Linked DNA regions of Homo sapiens: region 1 is linked to region 2. Evidence: fine-mapped expression QTL. A gene starts in region 2. The other region holds a variant in brackets. All regions are shown on one strand. Distances are between the middles of the regions. Region 1 overlaps GRIN2B (glutamate ionotropic receptor NMDA type subunit 2B). Region 2 holds the start of GRIN2B (glutamate ionotropic receptor NMDA type subunit 2B).

Region 1 (8,000 bases), 260 kb after region 2:
GATTTTAAGATTGAAGGGATGATGATAGATTGGTGGAAACTGAGAAGTTGGAGTGGGAACTTGCTTTTCACAGAAGCTGCATCAAATTCTGAACTGAGGGCTGGACACATTAGTGAGGATGTCTTGTAGTGCCTACAGCTATGCAGTCTGGAACGTGGAATTACAGATTTAAAATTTATCAGCATAGAGTGGATACAACTGTCAGTGGCCCAGCTGAGAAAAGCTGAGTTGTCTCAGGAGAAGAGTATCTAGAAAAAAGTGAGCTATGGACTGAGCCTTGAACATCAGCTATAGTTCCAGGGCAGGAGGAGCCACAGTGTTCAGTGAAGGACACAGGCCTGGTGGAGACAGGGAAGGAGGATTGTGGTGGTCAGCTGTATAGGTGCACGTGTTATTAAAGCCAAAAGAAATAACCATTTTAAGAAAGGAAAGGGGTTTAGTCATGTCAAATGTGGTAGAGAGGGCAGGCATTTGTGGGCCAACCTTACCTTTTATTTCCCTTTTTTTGTACACTTAACTACCATTAATCAGGGATTAATTATTTAGTTTTTTAATTATTCTGCTCAGTTGCCTAATGTTTGATCATTTTATAAACAGCATAAGGAAGAAATTTGAGGGAAGGGAAAGATTCAAACCATTTTCCCCCTATTACGAGGTGTAGGAAAAATTTGGTGGGGAAGAAACTTAACACTCACTATCGCCTACAATGAGATTTGGGGCCCTTGACACATGATTAGATGCCAGGGGTCTCTCAACATCCTGGCCCGTATACTTGTTAGCTGAATGACCATGGCCAGGTTCCTAACCTGTCTGGGCTTGCTTCTTCATCTATAAAAACGGAGGCAACACTAAAGGCTTTGTACTGTATTTGTGCTCGTTAAATAAGAATGTATACAAAGTGCTTAGCAGGGGGCCTGGAACAAAGAGTACCAAAACACAGTCAGCTTGTTTGGTTATTAGTATCTAATTTTGCTTGTTTTATTGGGCTATCCCTGCTCATATTGACATTAATTATTGATAATTGAATAAAACATTGTATTTGGAAAGTGTAATCATTAAAAATTGTATTTTCTTTTTCTCATTTTTTGAAGACGAATGGATTTCTTCCATTATAGTTTTATAAGACATAAATCTATATGAAATCTGAGCAATTCCTTGTTCCTGAATTTTCCCTGCCAAGGGACCCCAGCCTGGGGATGGCACCTTTATGAGGAACAGTGAGGAAGTGGCCTGGGGATGCTTCACGATAGGAGGAAGGAAATTATCTGAGTCTCTCAGTCTGAAGTGTTTTACTGATGTTGGAATGGGGAATCATCCTGAAATTAAAAAAAAAAAAAAAAATAGGTGTATATTTCTCAGAGCAAAGATACATGTGCTGACAATTTAGATTTTTTGCCCAGAGATGCTGGCATTTTGTTTCTGGGGGCGGTTCTTATGTTTCCAACAGTGTTCCCACTGCATGCCATGTTCTCTCCTCCTCACCCTTATCCTCCCACCCCCCTCCCCATATGGCTTCCTCTTTGTCTCGCCCACCCTACTCCTGGTTTCTTTCTGTCTCTCTCTTCTCCTGTAGTTATTTCCTTTCGGCAGCAAAATGAATCCTTCACAGAACAGAGTATGACTTTCCTCAAACCCATTCTCCATCTCTTTCAGCTATTTCTTTTCTGGAAGTTCTCGAATGAGCAAGATATCTGGGAGACAGTCTTTCCTACATATTCTGTTGCACTTCTCCAGTGATTCTCTTTCCTCTGGTGATTCATTTGGCTCCATTCTCTGCCTCCATCTTCCCCAAGCTTTCTCCCTAATGACTCTTCCTTCCACCCGCCTCCAAGACTGTCTCTCCATGAACAGGCTACACCCAGCCCAAGACTTAACCTGGCCTTGAAAATCTTCATCATACAAAAGCTAAGACAGACAGAGAGCTACATAAAAACGGGAGAGACAGAAGGAAGATAGGACTCTGAGAATGAGTTCGGACATGACTAAAGATGACCCAAACAGCTGGGTGCAGCTGTGGGAATGGCAGTGCATTATTTGTGATAAAGAGTTATGATTGATAGTGCGGTACACAAGGACTTATCTACATTAACCTCCTCCCCGCCACTCCCATGCTGGGAATAAATGTTAAGTTATTGTTAGCATATTTTGTTTTCTTTGTTTAAAGCACAGGATAGCTAGTGCTAAGTAAGAAAAAAACAGAAAAATAAAACATCCCTCTTAGACTTTAACTCTGTCTCTGACTTCATCTCTTTCTCAGATGGAGACACAATACCGTAAGTGAGAATACCATTGTATTATGTTGTGTGATTTGTGTGAGAAGATACTTGTGTATGGAGAGAGTTTTACTGATGGGTGCTGAGGGAGGTAAGGGTTTCTTTTGAATAATTTAATAAAGAACAGAAAATAAGTGAATATTAGTTCTGTGTGAAGAAGAGTCCAGAGGAAATAAATGAGTAAGAAAGTGATTATCAAACTGGTAGGTTATTTGGGCATTCTGACTAGAGTTAAACAACTTACAGGTGACTGTTGGTAATGCTGGCAATAGCAAATTATACTCCCTCTGTGCATCCATCCACCCACCAATCCTTCCATCCATCCATCTAATTTTCACTGAGCATTGGCTGTGTGTACAGTCAGTGATAGATGCTGTGGGAGATCTATCAAGTTTACACCTGGTTCCTGCCATTAAGGAATCTTTGATATTGAAGCACACACAAAGAGGGTGTGAATTGCCATCTCCCCTCTTTGGCCTTTTTCTCCATCCTTTCTCTCTTCCAGTCTTAAAAATCGTCTCTGAAGCCCCAAACTACAGCTCTCTGTGTATCTCCTTAGGTATCAGATTACCTACAAAACAAATTTCTTATTTTTAAAACATATATAAGGAAAATATTCTGATGTGTAGGGAGTTGTGGGCATCCTTTGGTGGCTGGATGATGAAATATTAAAGCACTACTAAACAGTGGTTCTCTAAAACTGGTTGAAAAAAATTTCTAGCCTTCAATATTCTTTTTCTTCTCCCTAAAAGTTTATTGGTTCCCATACCCCAAAGTTAGTCCTACCCAACCACAACCCTGGGAGGACTACTCAGTGCATGAATCTGAGTCGTGGGCTGCTGAATGAAAGCAAAGTGATTGCAATCTGAGGAGGTCATAAAATCGTGCATTCATTCATTATTCAACCACCATTTCCTGAGTGCCAACCATGTTACTGGCTTTGTAAATACAGAAATAAAAGACCAGGGTTTCTGCCCTTGAGGGGCCCACAATCTCCAACAATGGAGGTGGCTGGGAAAACAGCCAAAATACCACATGTGATCAGTTTTACATAAGCTTTACTCACAATGCTACAGTAAGAGCTACAGTGAAAGGGTCAATGATGCATGCTATCCATGCCCAGGAGAAGGGGTGCATGCAGAGGTAGGTTTCCATGACTCACAGTATCTCCTTTATTGACAGATTTACATTTTACCCCACAGAGCTATTATCCAGAGCTGTTAATAAGTAGGAACATGGTTTGCATAAGTAGGAACATGGTTTGCATTTCCTAGCTTTTACTCACAGCCTTCCCTCTTCCCAGCAGTGATCACAGCATCAGGTCCTCCCACCTTGAGAAACAATGACCATCTGAGTCTCTATCCCTGTCACCATTTCACAAACTCTGCAGAAATAATGGGTAAAACATTGTGCTTTTAACAGGACTAATCATCATCATTGTTGTAATAACGGGATTTATATATTTCTTACAATTTGCAGGTCCCCTCAGCTGTAACAACTAGATTTCCCAGAGAGTTAAAGAACAAGCTGTGTCACATCTAATGAGGGAAGAGCTAGCATTTGGATCACCCAATGCTAAAGCCCCAAATGACCAGGTGTAAATCGTTACAATCTCAAGTGCTTTTTCTATACAGCCTTGATAAAATGAACATCCTTTGTGAAATTGTAAATCTTCAGATCAATTCAAGAACTCATGGGAAACCACCAGAAAACATAGACTAGACATGAGAACTGTTGTCTGGAACCAAGGCTGTGTTGTATAGCAACAAAAACATTAAACTGGAAATCAGAAGACTTGCATGGCAGTCCACACCCTACCTTGTCGTGGCATATGTCACTTAGTTTCTTTGTGTCTTACTCTCCTTATTTATAAAATGAAGGGAATGGGTTAGACAATCCCTAGGGTTAAGAGTGAAGAATTTGGAGCCTCTTACCTATATTCAAATCCTGAGCTCTGCCGCTTTCTGGTTGCTCTAGTTCTTTCCATTTCTTACACAACTTGATTAAATTACTAGTTATTTAATCTTGTTGAGCCTCAGTTTCCTCATCTGAAAAAATGGAGATAATAACTGTTCTGTGAAAGGATTGCTCCGATAACTAATTAGTTAATAGTTTTACTCAGGAGTGGAAAACCAAACGGTATGTTCTTATTTATAAGTGGGAGCTAAGCTATGAGGATGCAAAGGCATAAGAATGACACAATGGACTTTTGTGGACTTGCGGAAAGGGTCGGAGGCGGGTGAGGGATAAAAGACTACACATTGGGTACAGGGTACATTGCTCAGGTGATGGGTGCACCAAAATCTCAGAAATCACTACTAAATAACTTATTTATGTAACCAAATACCATGTGTTCCCCAAAAACCTATTGAAATAAAAAAGTAAATTTAAAAAAATACATGAAATTATAAAAAAGAAGAAAAAGTTAATAGAAATAGTATGTGGCTTGAGTAAATGTTATATATTTATATATATATTTATAATATATAAATATATATATATATTTCTTTCTTTTTTTTGACAGAGTCTCGCTCTTTTGTCCAGGCTGGAGTGCAGTGGCATGATCTTGGCTCACTGTAACCTCCACCTCCTGAGTTCAAGTGATTCTTCTGCTTCAGCCTCTCAAGTAGCTGGGATTACAGGTGGCC[G/A]CCACCATGCCTGGCTAATTTTTGTATTTTTAGTAGAGACAAGGTTTCACCATGTTGGCCAGGCTGGTCTCAAACTCCTGGCCTCAGGTGATCTGCCCGCCTTGGCCTCCCAAAGTGCTGGGATTACAGGCATGAACCAATGTGCCCGACAATTTTTTTTTAATTAAAAAAAAATATTGGCCCCTTCACCTCTAGGCTATTATGAGTCTTTGAAGCTTTGATATTTCTGGAAGTGGAGAAAGAATATACAATTTACAAAGTAGCTAGTTTAAAGAAAAATGCTGAAATGGCTAAGAGGTATGACTATTTCAGCAGGAAACTCAAGAAAGGATACAGTGGAATAAGAAATTAGCAATTTCATGGATGTAGGTAGAAATTCATGGGTAGAAATCTCAGTAGGGAAGCAGAGGGAAGTGATGTAATGCTCTGGACCTTCCAGAAATAAAGCAGAGCAGGTGAAGATCTGCAAGAAACTCCAGTCTGGTGAAATCTCCAGGAGAGTCATTGTGAAGTTCATTTTGCAGTTAACCCCATGCGCTCACCTCTCTGCCCATCCCTGTGTCCTGCTCTGATTTCTGGGCTCCTTCATTCTGGCAGCATCAGAACTTAGGGTTCAGTGAAGTTGGGGTTTCTCTTCACAAAACCCTGGGCCCTCTTCCCTGGAAATTGCTCCATTTCTTGTTAAGCAGAGGGAAAATGAAAATATTCTAGCTGTCTGTATTCTATAATAGTTTTGTGATGCTTTTCCATAAATTGGTATAAACAAATAAATACAAGCTATAAGAAGGCAGAAGTGTAAAGAGTCTGTGTATCCGATCTGCTTGGTTTCCCTCATTCTTGATCAAGTCCTGTGTCTTGCTCATGCTGTGGCCCAACCTGTAACTCCTAGCTGCTAATTTAGCTGAAGAATCGGTTGTTTAAAACAGGGACCATATGCCTTAGCTTCCCCAGCTGTATGACTAGGAGAACACCTTGCAAATGTATTGTGATGCTGAAATAAAATAAAATGTGTGAACTCACCAAATACAGTCCTGCCACCCTACTGCCTGACTCCTCCTCTTCCCTCTTACCTGCACATCCTCCTCCACCCCTCCTCTTCCCCTTTCTTTCCTCTCATTCTTCTTTTCTTCCTTGTATTCAAAATGACACAATCTGGTGACTAATTCCTGATCTGCTCTTTGATTTCCCCAGAGGAAGAACTGATCCCTCCAGGGGACACTATTATCCTGAGGCTAGATAGTGACAACGGTGTGCTGAGAAATAAAGAGCAGAGATTTGCCCAAAGAAGAGTGGTTTCAGGAGGGGCTTTTGGTAGGCACAGAGCACAAGAGTTTGCAATTGCTATACAAGCATTATTGCTCTGTCTCAAGGAAGTTGTTTGCCTTTCACTGACATCTGAATTTACTGTTTCAGATGAAGGGGGAAGAAAAGGAGGAGCAAATTATCTGCTGGGGACCTGCTATGTCCTAGACACCATAGTAGAATGCATCTGGCAATAATTTTTGGAGGTAGTGGTAGGGCCCTGTGCAGTCCCAGGATTATTTAGCTTGCCTAGAATTTCTACTTCTTAGAAGCAGCCTGTCTTAGCCTTTGTGCAAGGAGTTTATATGGGAAACAATCTTAGGGAGCAGAAATTAGGGAGTAGGAGAGTGAATGTGGAAGGGGGTAAAGCCAATGATAGGAGCCATATTGAGCTGAAACCCTGTGAGTGACAGGTGCTGGATCCCACAAGGGCATCCTAGGAGAGCCTTCAGAAATGCATCTTAGGACAGAGTCAGGTAATCAATTTTCAGTCTCACATAAAATTAATACTTCCATTTTAACATTCCCACCTTCTTAATCTTCTGATCTCTTTTTCAATATTTTGCCAAAGTCTTCCCATCATTTGTCACCTCATCCCCTAGGCCATCAACCCAGGAGTATATTAGGAATGCCTATAGGCATCTCTGCAAGGAGTTTGAATATCATTTCACAAGAAAGTGTTGCTGTGCCAATAAATTCTCTATCCCATTCTACCTCCAGTCTAACTTCCTCAAAGTTCACTCCTACATGTGCTTCCTGATTTCTGCAAACCTGTAATTGGCCGGGCCTTTCCATTGCAATTCCTTCAGTATGTAAACTATTTCCTCCTAGATATTCATCCCTTCTAGGGACTGTATTTTCCAGCTGTAGTTGTGCTATGACCTGGCTCTAGTTATTGGCCTGTAGGGACTACAGAGAGATGGGGTCACATATTGAGGACAGGAGTCAGAATGAGAGGCACCTGCTTCAGATGTGTTCTTTACAGTGTTTTTAAAGGCAGACTTATTTCCTTTGGCAAGAGGGGAGGAGCTTTTCTTGCCTTCTAAGAGGTTTCAGGAAAATCCTCTCTTACTGTCTTCCTAAGTGTACCACGTGGGTCTCCAGGTCCCATTCTTTTCCTATTGGAATTTCCTATTAGAATTTCCACAAAGGAGGAATTCCAAGGTTATGCATTTAGTCTCTTTGGTAGCATTGCCACTATTAGTTTTTTTCCTCTGGATCGATCTGATTTTCAGCAGGATTTCCTGAGTTGATAGTCAGTTCATTTGATTCTTCCAGTTTATTTTTTTAAGACTTGAAAATGTATTGACAAAGCCAGCCAACTGCTCATGTATTTTTCAAATACCAGAGCCACCACATAACCCAATACGTTACCCTCTACCACTAGCTTATCCCAATCCACCACAGGTAAGAGTGTTAGTATTTGTGATGCTAAAGAATGAACATACTAGGAATTAATACTACTTCACTCACCTGTAGCAGTGGGGTCTTCACTGAATTCCACAGTCCCATCTTGAGAAACTGATTTCTAAAGCCACTCCTAATGCCAGTTATCTTACCTGAGTTCCTTTGATGGCAGAGAATGAGGCACTAGCTTATATGCAAGTGTTTTTTTTTTTTTAAGTAATTCTAGGGAGCAGGGCTTAGGGACTAGAACAGTGAGACAGGGAAGGAGAGAAAATTGATACAAGGGTACATTATCTGGTTGAGCATTGCTGACAGCAAGTGGTCATTCATCCTACAAGAAATGCTCTAAGAAGCCTTAAGAAATGTGTCT
Region 2 (10,720 bases):
GTACAGAGAAAGCTTACTATCACATTGCATCCTATATTTCCACCTTTCTAGGTTCAATCATTCTTCTCTCTGAAAGTCTTATTCATTCCTCCTTTCTCTCTCTCCTCCCATCCTGCCCCTTTGATTAATTTCCAAAAGAAAAGGGCAGATTTAAGGGTCAGGTGCGGTGGCTCATGCCTGTGATCCCAGCACTTTGGGAGGCTGAGGCAGGTGGATCACGAGGTCAGGAGTTCGAGACCAGCCTGGCCAATATGGTGAAATCCTGTCTCTACTAAAAATACAAAAATTAGCCAGGGGTGGTGGCGCGTGCCTGTAGTCTCAGCTACTTGGGAGGCTGAGGCAAGAGAATCACTTGAACCCAGGAGGTGGGGTTGCAGTGAGCTGAGATCATGCCACTGCACTCCAGCCTGGCAACAGAGCGAGACACTGTCTCAAAAAAAAAAAAAAAAAAAAAAAAAGGCAGATTTAGATGAGTATTGAAGAAATGTTTCCATGAGAACACAATGTAAATGTCTAAAAGTGTATTGTTACAGTGTATACAACAGGCTCAATAAAATGCCCTGCATAATGAATAATTTTTTCATTGTTGGAGGATAAGCAGGTCTTCAGACAAGGGGATGAGGGTTGTTTAACTCTTCCTTTGAAAAAGACTGTCTGAGTTGAATAATTAATATTATTATGATAAGAACAAAATAGAGATTCTTTTAAAAGAGTAATGATGGTAGAGGCAGGATCTTAGTATGCTTGTGCAAATTATTAAAATTGAATGCTCTGCCTGTGTTTCCTGTACACTCCAGGAATTGCAAGCAAAAGAAGATGGATTGGATTAAGCAGAAAACATTAATATGCGTGTTGTCAACTGAGCCTTTAATGATTACCTTTTCAAAGATAAAAATCATTCAAATATTTTATCTAGAAACCAGCAAGCCTGTTTTACATTAGGTAATGAACTGAGAGGCAGACTGACTTTGAAACTAATACAGCTTCGAATTCATAGACTCTCACTTGGGCCCTTTCTAAGGTGTTGGGAGAAGTCCTAAAATGTGCCCAAATGTTTTGGTGAAATTTGCAAAAGTAGCATATTTTAATTGTAATCTATTATTATTATTATTATTTTATAATTGCTTCTTTGTCACCCAGGCTGAAGTGCAGTGGCAGGATGTCAGCTCACTGCAACCTCCGCCTGTCGGGTTCAAGCGATTCTGCTACTTCAGTCTCCCGACTAGCTGTAATTACAGGTGTGCTCCACCATGCTTGGCTAGTTTTTGTATTTTTAGTAGAGATGATATTTTGCCCTGTTGGCCAGGCTGGTCTCAAACTCCTGACCTCAAGTGATCCACCCGTGCCAGGCCTTAATTGCAATCATTTAAAATTGCTCTTTCCATTCCAACTTTCCCTGTCAGATTTCCCCTCACACTGGGTGTCATTGGAGTGGTGGTGACCATTTTTGGGATGAAGCTAAGGGAATGCTGAATTGGAAACACGTTCATTTAGGCTTAGTGAGATATATCTCTACACCTTGCAATCAGTTCTCCATAGAGTTAAGTTATTGCTCACTGTTCCAAATGAAGAAAAGGTTTCCAGGTGTGACACAAAGGTGTCACAGGATATGTGTCATCACAGGATATGTGTCGTCCCGGTATTCTAGTTCAAGAAAAAGCTGCCTCTCCCTTACCTCAAAGTTTCTGACCACTTTGGTATTTTGTAACATTTTTTTTCTCCTTCAGATTTGTCTCTCAAATGGAGTGTTTTAAACATATATGACAAGTAAGAATTTTCTTTAAAGAATCTAAGTGTAATGTTTACCCTTTGGAAGCTGCTCAAGCCTCCAAAGCGGGGCAGGGAAGTGCTGGGAAGGGAAGGGTGTGGTCCCTGGCGAGGGTTCCAACCCCATGCCTGTGCCCAGGGACCTAGGTGAGGACAGGCATTTTTGTTTTCCTGCCCAAATGTTGCATTTCCCAAGACCACATAATGTTGCATTTCCCAAGTCATACCTAAACTAATTATTTAAGATGAAAACAGAAATTCTAAATAGCGGTAATGAATAGACCCCTGGGAATGTTTGACAATCAAATTAATGAAGAGAAGTGAATCATATGAACATATTGGGGAAATATTTATATTTTTGGCTCATTTGAGACAAAATGCTGTCATTGATGAAGACAGTATAAAACTTATAATAAATTACAAACTAGTTAATGAATTTTATCAATTCAAGAGATATTTAAGATTAGTCACTGAACAAGAAAACTTGAAATCCTTGTAACCTGAGAGCTTATATATCAAAGAAATTTGATAAATGTCTTTCTAAATTTGACAACAACCCTTAAAAGTGTAAACTGTACTAATACCAATAAATAGGAAAATTTTCTAAATTATCTATAATGAAAAACAATTTTCAGTTATTTTGAAGAATAAACTGGATCCCAGATTATTTTTTTTGATTCTAGTATCTTCATAGAAAATTATAGTTTAAACCACAATGTGAAGAGGTACTCAAAGAGAATGTGGTAAAAAAAATACAAAAACAAATATTACAGAAATATGCAGTTAACTAGAGATTATTATTTAAATTTTTAATTTTTGTGGTGTTTATAACTACTAAAGAATTTTTAAATTGTTGTGATTTATTTTCTAAGTGGATATTCACTTTTGCAATTAATTTTTTATTCTTTCTCTTAAAGAGGGACTCCAAATTGTATAAACTTCAGGCTCCAGCCTTTGGTACCGTGTTTGATCTGAAAGATGTTGCCAGATAAACATACTTTTTTTGTTGTTGTTGGCCAGGCAAGGCATAGGCTTTGCGTTTGCTGATTGGGCCATGAAAAAGAGTGTTTGCATCTTCTGGGAACCTCTCTTTGGGTTGAGTTGGCAGAATACCTCCAAAAGTGTCATTAGCAGCCTCAAGCAAGAGCTTCTCCTCAATAAGCAATGCTGTGAAATATGATGCAACATTTTGTCTCATTAGAATATTGTTTTCTGTGTTGCTGGACTAGGAGTTAGGAAATATATATTTATGACACTAAGAAATGGTGTTTCGAATTTCATGAATCTGGGCGATCCTTGAAATAGTTTTATTTTATTTATTTATTTTTGAGACGGAGTTTTGCTTTTGTTGGAGTGCTGGAGTGCAATGGCATGATCTCAGCTCACCGCAGCCTCTGCCTCCTGGGTTAAAGCGATTCTCTTGCCTCAGCCTCCCAAGTAGCTGGGATTACAGGCATGTGCCACCACACCTGGCTAATTTTGTATTTTTAATAGAGACGGGGTTTCTCCATGTTGGTCAGGCTGGTCTTGAACTGCCAACCTCAGGTGATCCACTCGCCTTGGCCTCCCAAAGTGCTGGGATTACGGGTGTGAGCCACCACACCTGGCTGAAATAGTTTTATTGAGAGGCTTATGGTCCATGAAGGCAAAGGTTATTAGTGAGAAGAGCAAGTGAGTGACAAGGAGCCAGAAAAAAAGGAGACGAATCTTAGTTCCATTGAGTAGTCAATGGGCAATGAATGCCATGGGCAAGGGATATTACTTTCCACTTCACAATCTGTGTGGTCCCTAGAATTAGCTATTTCAGAACCAGAAAAACTGCTTGATAAAGTGGCTTCAAATAGTCATAAAAAATATCTATTGAACCTCTACTGCATGTCTGGAATTGAGCCAGGTACTGGGAATATATGGATGACTTAGGTTATGGTCTGTCCCCTTAGGGAGCTAAACAACTAGTTTGGAAGACAGGAAATTGACACCAGAATATAATTTTAAGTTTAACTTTATGAAATTGCCTTTTTATTATATGTCAATAATGGTTATTTCATATGATTGGCAATTTCGTATGATTGAATATCAATAGTCTCACATGGTTCAACATGAATAGCTACAGAGGTAATATTTTTCCCTATAGTGGGCCAGTACCTGGTTAATGAATGCAATAAGTTATCACCCAGTCAGTTTGATAACTGATCAAGCAAACTCTTCCATACATTGCTGAATACAGAAAATGAGAGTGGAGGGGATGGTGGTGAGGTGTCATCTCTCATTTCAAAATTCTTGCAATTTTTACAGAAATCAATTCAGGCTTGGTTGACTGAAAAATATCCCCAGAGGAGGTGGGACTTGAGCTGGAAACTGAAGAGGAGTGTGGACTCAATTAGGTGGAGGAAGTATGAGCGTTCATTCTTCCCTGTACACTTGGAAAAGTGAACAGGGTGGAATGGAATTGCAACAGGGTTCAGGTAGGGAGGAAAAGGAAAGAAAATAGGGAAGAATAGTATAATTTTGGTGAAGGGACTGAGGATAGGAAGGGGAACGTGGGCTATGAGCCAGAAATAAAAAATATAAAAATTTAAAAAGTAGATTCAAGGTCAACCCATGAAGATCCTTGAGTGAGCTTGGATGTTATTCTGAAGCTAATGGACCAGGTAACGGTAATTTTCCTGGAAAATTCAGGGAAGAGTGTTTCAGGAAATCTCTATTAGGTTCTTGCTTTCTGCATTCTATACTCCTCTTGGAATCGGCGTTCTAACAACTGCAAACCTGCCCATAGGCAGGTGAACTTGAAAACCCTGGAGACAAATTATTAGAGGGGCTTGGGTTGGCTGTTGTGTATCAAGAGGGCACAGCAACTCTGGGGTGCTTCGACACTTCCCCAAAGTAGTGAAAGATCAGTTCTAACTCTTAGAAAAATAGAAAACCATTACTGAGAAGGAATAATTTGCATGTGAACACACTCTATTTGTGTTTTCACACAATGCTTATGTGTTCGTGTGTGTTAAATATGTTAGATTCAAAAATTAAGCCTGAGAAAAACCAGGAAACAGAAGAATTACTGTAGCTCAGAAGTATGAGTAGTCTGGTCTACAGGACAGCAAAAACATATCTGATGGCTTCTACAGACTAAAGTTCCAAGCCACTAGGTATATCCACTCACACAGCCTTCTCTCCTGTGCGTTTGTATGGCCGCTTCTCAGGAATGCTGGTGAGAAGCCCATGATATAACCAATATGAAAATGTTCCACCACTGTAGTATTCTAGATATTTGAAAAGACAATGGATGAGAATGAAAATGATGCATATACAATAATATTAATGTTAAAAGTAAACAATACTACAGGTGGTGATAAGGGCTATTAAAATATAAAAGAGTTCAATAGGAAGAGAAATGAATGGATGTTTGCCTTTTCAAAGAGGGTGGGTTTGTAAATGCCAGGAAATCCAGTTTCCTTTAGGGATTATTCACGGGCCTCACCATCTTCTCTTCTCAAGGCATTTAAATAACAGGATCCACTTTAATAAAAAATGTCAAACTCCTCCCGCCTTCACTAGCAGCCAGAAAAGCACGCGTATGGTCCATACTATACAATTTAGCCACGAATGACACCTGCTTTGCTTTGTTTTCTATTGTGTTAGGCGTCAGCCTCGTGTGCTCAGATAGATCTTAAGCTCCTTGAAGGCAAGAAAGAACCCGGTCCCAGACTGCGTCCGACACACAGAATGCTCGTAGGAAGCACAGGCTGATTTATGGAAAATACAGCAAGGGTCTTCAATTTCGAACTACAGCTCCGCCTTGGAGATGCTTTCCGCAGCCCGCGGGCCGCCCACGGGGGGCACTGTCTAGCTCCCCTCGCCCCTCAGCCGCTCTCCGTCGGTGCTGTTCCCCGCTGCGGCCGGGAGGAGGCGCCACGGACTCGGGCTAAGCTTCTTCCCCCTTCCGTCCCCCTTCCATCCACCTTACCACCCCACTTCCCCAGCACATGACGTGGGAAGCTGCCTCCGCCAGAGTCTTAGCAAGAGGAGTGAGGGGGTGCAGGGGCTTGGGGGTGGGGTGGGGTGGGGGGTGTGGAGAAAGAGGACACGCGCGCTCACACCCGCCCCTGGGAGCAGAAGCAGTATCTTCCCCAGCTTCGTGGGTTTCTCCTCCCCCCGGAGTCAGGGTGTGCGAGGTAGGGGGTGTGTGTGTGTCTGTGTGTGTGTGCGCGGCACGTTTTTGAGTGTGAGACCCAAATCCAGACCAGGCAACCTGCGTTCCCCGCGCCTCCCCCCGTCCCCGGTGATTAATACCCATTTTTCTGACGCTCCCCTCCTCCCCTCCTGCTCTCCCTCTCCGGCTGCCGCGCGGTTGACTTGCACAGCCTGCCCCCGCCCGCTTCCCTTCCCCCGGCTCCGATCCTCACCAACTGGAATCTGGGCTCCTGCCTCTCCACCCCCCACCTCTTTTTGAGAAAGGAAGGTTCCCCCCACCCCCTTTCAAAAACCACTTCCTCCGGCTTCTTCACCTCTAGGAAATCTCGGGGCTTCGCTCTATCGAGAGTGCTCGTCAAGGGTGATTCTTGATCACCACCATCCAGTAGTGCTGGCGTCCGAATGCATATCCTTTTGCCTTGCAAAGAAGAGTCATGAACTTCAAAACCCCCGAGACGGATCATTAATCCTGCTTTGCAGGAAAGGAAAACCCTCCATTCCCAGCCACCGGCCACCCCTCTCCGCAGACTGCAACCGCGGAGGCGCTCGGAGCCGGTACGTAAAGATGGGCTTTGGAGTCTCTCCTTTGAATGTAGGGGTTTGGGGGTGTCAGGCAGATAAAGGGTCGAAGCCGTGAAATCGTGAACGAATCTGGCATGAGGTAAAGCTCTGAAATCCAGCAGAACCCGGCACTTGCTAATTTGGACGTGGCTTTTTTAAAGGTTTTTTTTTTTTGTGGGGGAGGGGGTGCTGTGACTGGGTAGGGCTGTCTCTGGTCTTTTGGGGGGTTTCATCCCTTCACCTAGCAGAGGGGCAGGGCAGCGGCGCCCCGGGCCGGACCCACGCGCCGAGCCCATCCGTCCAATCGACACGTTGCAGGTGAAGCCCCGTGCGCTGCACCTCAGCGCGGCGGCAGCGTGAGTGTGCGCGGGGGTGAGTGTGCGCGGGGGTGAGTGTGAGTGCGCGCGGGGCGCGTGCGCGTCGGGGGCGTGTGTGCGCGCGTCAGTGTGCCCCTTCCAAGAAATGCCCAGTGTGCACCCCGTGCACAATCAGAACCCATTCAGCACAAGCCCGGGGTGGGAGGCGGCGCTGCTGCTGGAGGCGATGGGGAGAGCGAGCGAGACAAGTCAGCAGCAATGCAGATGGGGCTGGGGGCCGCACTCGCTGGCGAGTTAAGTGGGAATTGTGTTTCTGCGTGTGTGTGAGTGTGTGTTGCTGTATGGTGCCGCTTCTCCCCCCCTTCCTCCTTCCTTCCCACTTCCCTCCTTCGCTCGCTCCCTCCCTCTCTCCTCTTCCATTCAGGTTGGCTTTCCCACCTCTCATCCGTGCCTGTCCCAGGAATGGTATAGCCAGACCTTTTCTGAATTATTTATAGACCGGTACCAGCTGTTTTCAATTCCTCTCGTGTGCACTCTGTGGGAAATGCGGGGTTTCCTCCCCCCTTTCCTTAAAACGAATTGATATCTTTTTCGGAATGCATTTTTCTCACCCTCCGGGGGACACGCGAATCAAGCCCTGACCGCCTCTTTTTCCCCCTTAGGAAGGGGACGCTTTGGGAATGACCATGCTCCACCGAGGGACGGAGCCGGCCCCCAGCTTCTCCACACAGAGCCTCCTCCACTAACGCTCCAAAAACCAAAAACCGTAATTGCCAGAAGAAGCGTTAAAAATCTATTCCAGCCACTAACCTCACATGCACACGGAATAATTACTCTGGATTCTGCATTGTGAGCTGCTCTCCATACCCTGAATTACCTTTGAATTAAATCTTTTTTTTTTTGAATTTGCATCTCTTCAAGACACAAGATTAAAACAAAATTTACGCTAAATTGGATTTTAAATTATCTTCCGTTCATTTATCCTTCGTCTTTCTTATGTGGATATGCAAGCGAGAAGAAGGGACTGGACATTCCCAACATGCTCACTCCCTTAATCTGTCCGTCTAGAGGTTTGGCTTCTACAAACCAAGGTAGGGCAAATTCTATTTTATTTTTTCCTCACCTGGGGTAGGGATTCCTCATTTTATCTATCTCTTCGAGTCCCTCAAGTGGATCTTTTTGGAAGAAAAGGTCACAAGATATGAAAATAATGCTGTTTTGGGAAAAAAGGCTTATTACAAAGAAGGAAATCTCCCATGTTTTTTCTTTTTCTTCTCTCATCTAACAGGTTTTGGGCTTTTGGGGGGCAGTGGGGGTGGATGTATGCAGGCACAAAAGATGTTGGATGGCATCAGGGGAATGTATCTATATCTATAGACATAGCCAGCCAGGAGACCTGTGTGATTTTCCAGTTAAATAGCATTTTATTCACCCAGAACTAAAGCTCCGATTTTTATGGGAATCTAGAAATCCTTTTTTTTTTTTTTTTTCAGGTTGGCTTTATTCCCCTTGTCACCTTCATGCCTCTCTCCCTGTCTCCTGTCTTTACCTTTCTAGGCATCCTTTCTATGCCCTTTAAAACAGATAAAAATAATGATTGAGATTACTGTGATTGTTGCCCTGAAATCCACTTGCTGTCTAAAGGGTTGACAAGGGGCCCAGAGATCCCGGGAGGCCTATTGCAGAGGGGTAGGTCTAGGTGGGGATCGGGCTGGTCTCAGAACACCTGGAATTGAAGGATGCTGCAGGTTAAACGACTTAAATCTTAAGCTCGGAAAGGAGGAATTCTGTCAATATTCTGCTTTTAATTTGTATTTTTTCCTGTGCTATTATTTTTGAGCTGTAAATTTCTCCTTCTGTCTACATATCTATTTATACCCACACATCCTCCAAGCAAACTGTTACTTCTACACTCTTGCAAAATGGCTATCTTGCAGAGTTCTAAAATGCTGTGCATGTGGAAGGGGTGCAGAATTCGACACGTGAGTCTTTGTGTTAAACAAAGAGATGTGCTGTTTGCATGTATTAGTCTTGTACCCTCAAAAATGGAATTAATACTTTAACATTTTCCCTTTCATCAATTTTTACAATATGTGAAATGTGATTAGGCAGTATTTTAATGTACTTGAGAAGAGAAATAGCAGGAGAAATGGAAAAGACTTAGCTAATGACTCTTCAGCTAGTCACTCATGCAATCCAAGACAACTCTTGAGAGAATCAGATCATTCATGGGTTGGAGGGCCATGATGGTGAGTGGGCTGCTCCTTTCCTTGCTCCACTGACCATATGTCCCTGAACTCTGAAGGCGTCTAAATGCAGGGATCAGGTTGGGATAAAGATCTCCAAAAACATGTAGCAGAATCATTAGCATCATTATTTTTCCTAAAAGTATTACCACCACCCCAACACACACACAATTTTTTTTTCTGGCATTTTAAAACAACAATTCTTTGATAATCCAAAATACCAAAGGGATGTGGGGAAGAGGTGAAAGATCTTTGTCGCTCAACATGACAGTAGATGATAGTTCTTCATTGTCCAGAAAGGATAGATGTAATCCAAATTCACTATCCCCCTTCTCTAGGTTTCATTCTTTTGAGTTTTACTGCTGAAATGCTACTTTGTAACCATGGTGTAATCAGAGTGAGAGGGTGGGATCCCACTTTGAACCATGTTCTCACCACGTCTACAAATGACTGAGGTTATCTGGTGTGTGCTCACCTTAGAGACACCTGAACTCATTCTCCATCTGCTTCCACTCCAAGTAGGAGGATGAACTCTTAATTTGACTTCAAAATAGAAAAGAGGTATGGGTGAGAAAGGCAGCTCCATGTGCAATGCTTTCATACATACAGATGGACAAGGAGAGGAGGGCATTGATGGGGCACAGGGCCCCTTTTGCATCCCCAGTGCCACAACACCAGTACTCTACACCCAGTAGGTCCTTTGGAATGTTCGTTTGTTGGTGATGGGTTTGACAAGGATGCTGTTTGACAGGATCTCAGCTACCTCATTTATCTTGAATGCCAATGGATGAAGCCAGGTTCCAGGCTATCATTAGTTGTCCCTAAGACTAGGCGAGGTTGAAAGGGGAGGGAGTTGAGGAAGAGAGGAAAAAGTGGGTGGGGAAGCTATAAAGGGAAAGGAGAGGTAATCCAACTGGAAGAGGCTTGTTAAGATTCAAGGAGGAATCGCCACAGGTGGTCTGTGCCTTTTCACCATGCAAAGCCATTTTGGAGACCCTGATGAGGAAGCAGGTGTTCCCCATCCTCGCAGGCAGTCTCTGTGAGGCTGTGACTCAGTGGTGCTCTGAGCCATCTCAGGGCCTTTGTTCTCGCCCCCTTTTTCCCCCTCACAGCACAGAGCTGACTGGGTTCTATTTTGTCTTTTCTCCTTCTGCCAGCCCCCTTACAATGTGGGTGACATGGGAAAGAAAGGTGGCGGCTGGTGGGAGGAAGAGCAAATTTAATTTCAATCGAGGAACCTCCATGATGTGCAATTAAGAAAAGTAATAATAATGGGAAATAAAGACTTCCCAGGACACAGTTAAGGACATTAGGTGGGTGATTTCAAGAGAAGCAGAACAACATGGTTATCTTCTATGTCTGTTTCAGGTGTGGCAGAGCATGGCGGATCTGTGAACACAGAGTGATGTGGCAGTTTAGAGTTAGGTGTTACATGTGAGGAGAGGAGCCGGGAGTACCACTGGATTGTCTAATTTTTCCTCTCCCGTTGGTTCCATCCCTAGGAAGCCTGTCTGTCTGAAGATCCATGCTTTGCTAATGTATATATGCAATTTTTGCCAGGGATGGACGCAGGCAGAGAGAATCAATAAGAAGGTGAAATGACAGGAAAGGAGGGGAAAGAGAAAAAATCCTCAATTC

Evidence for each region. PIP is the estimated chance that this variant, and not a neighbour inherited with it, causes the effect.
Region 1: its variant is the best candidate, but not a certain one, in a credible set for the expression of GRIN2B in tibial nerve (GTEx, PIP 0.56).

What each region holds. Positions count from the first base shown.
Region 1 is chr12:13,723,325-13,731,324 of GRCh38, reverse strand. All of the region lies in intron 4 of GRIN2B (glutamate ionotropic receptor NMDA type subunit 2B), which reads left to right. Among named protein-coding and RNA genes, the nearest start is that of GRIN2B, 250 kb to the left of the region's middle. The variant G/A (reference allele first, on the strand shown) is at 4,922.
Region 2 is chr12:13,977,135-13,987,854 of GRCh38, reverse strand. GRIN2B (glutamate ionotropic receptor NMDA type subunit 2B) reads left to right here and starts at 6,253. Exons shown (of 14, transcript NM_000834.5): 1 at 6,253-6,513; 2 at 7,499-7,927. RefSeq lists an enhancer at 1,301-2,500.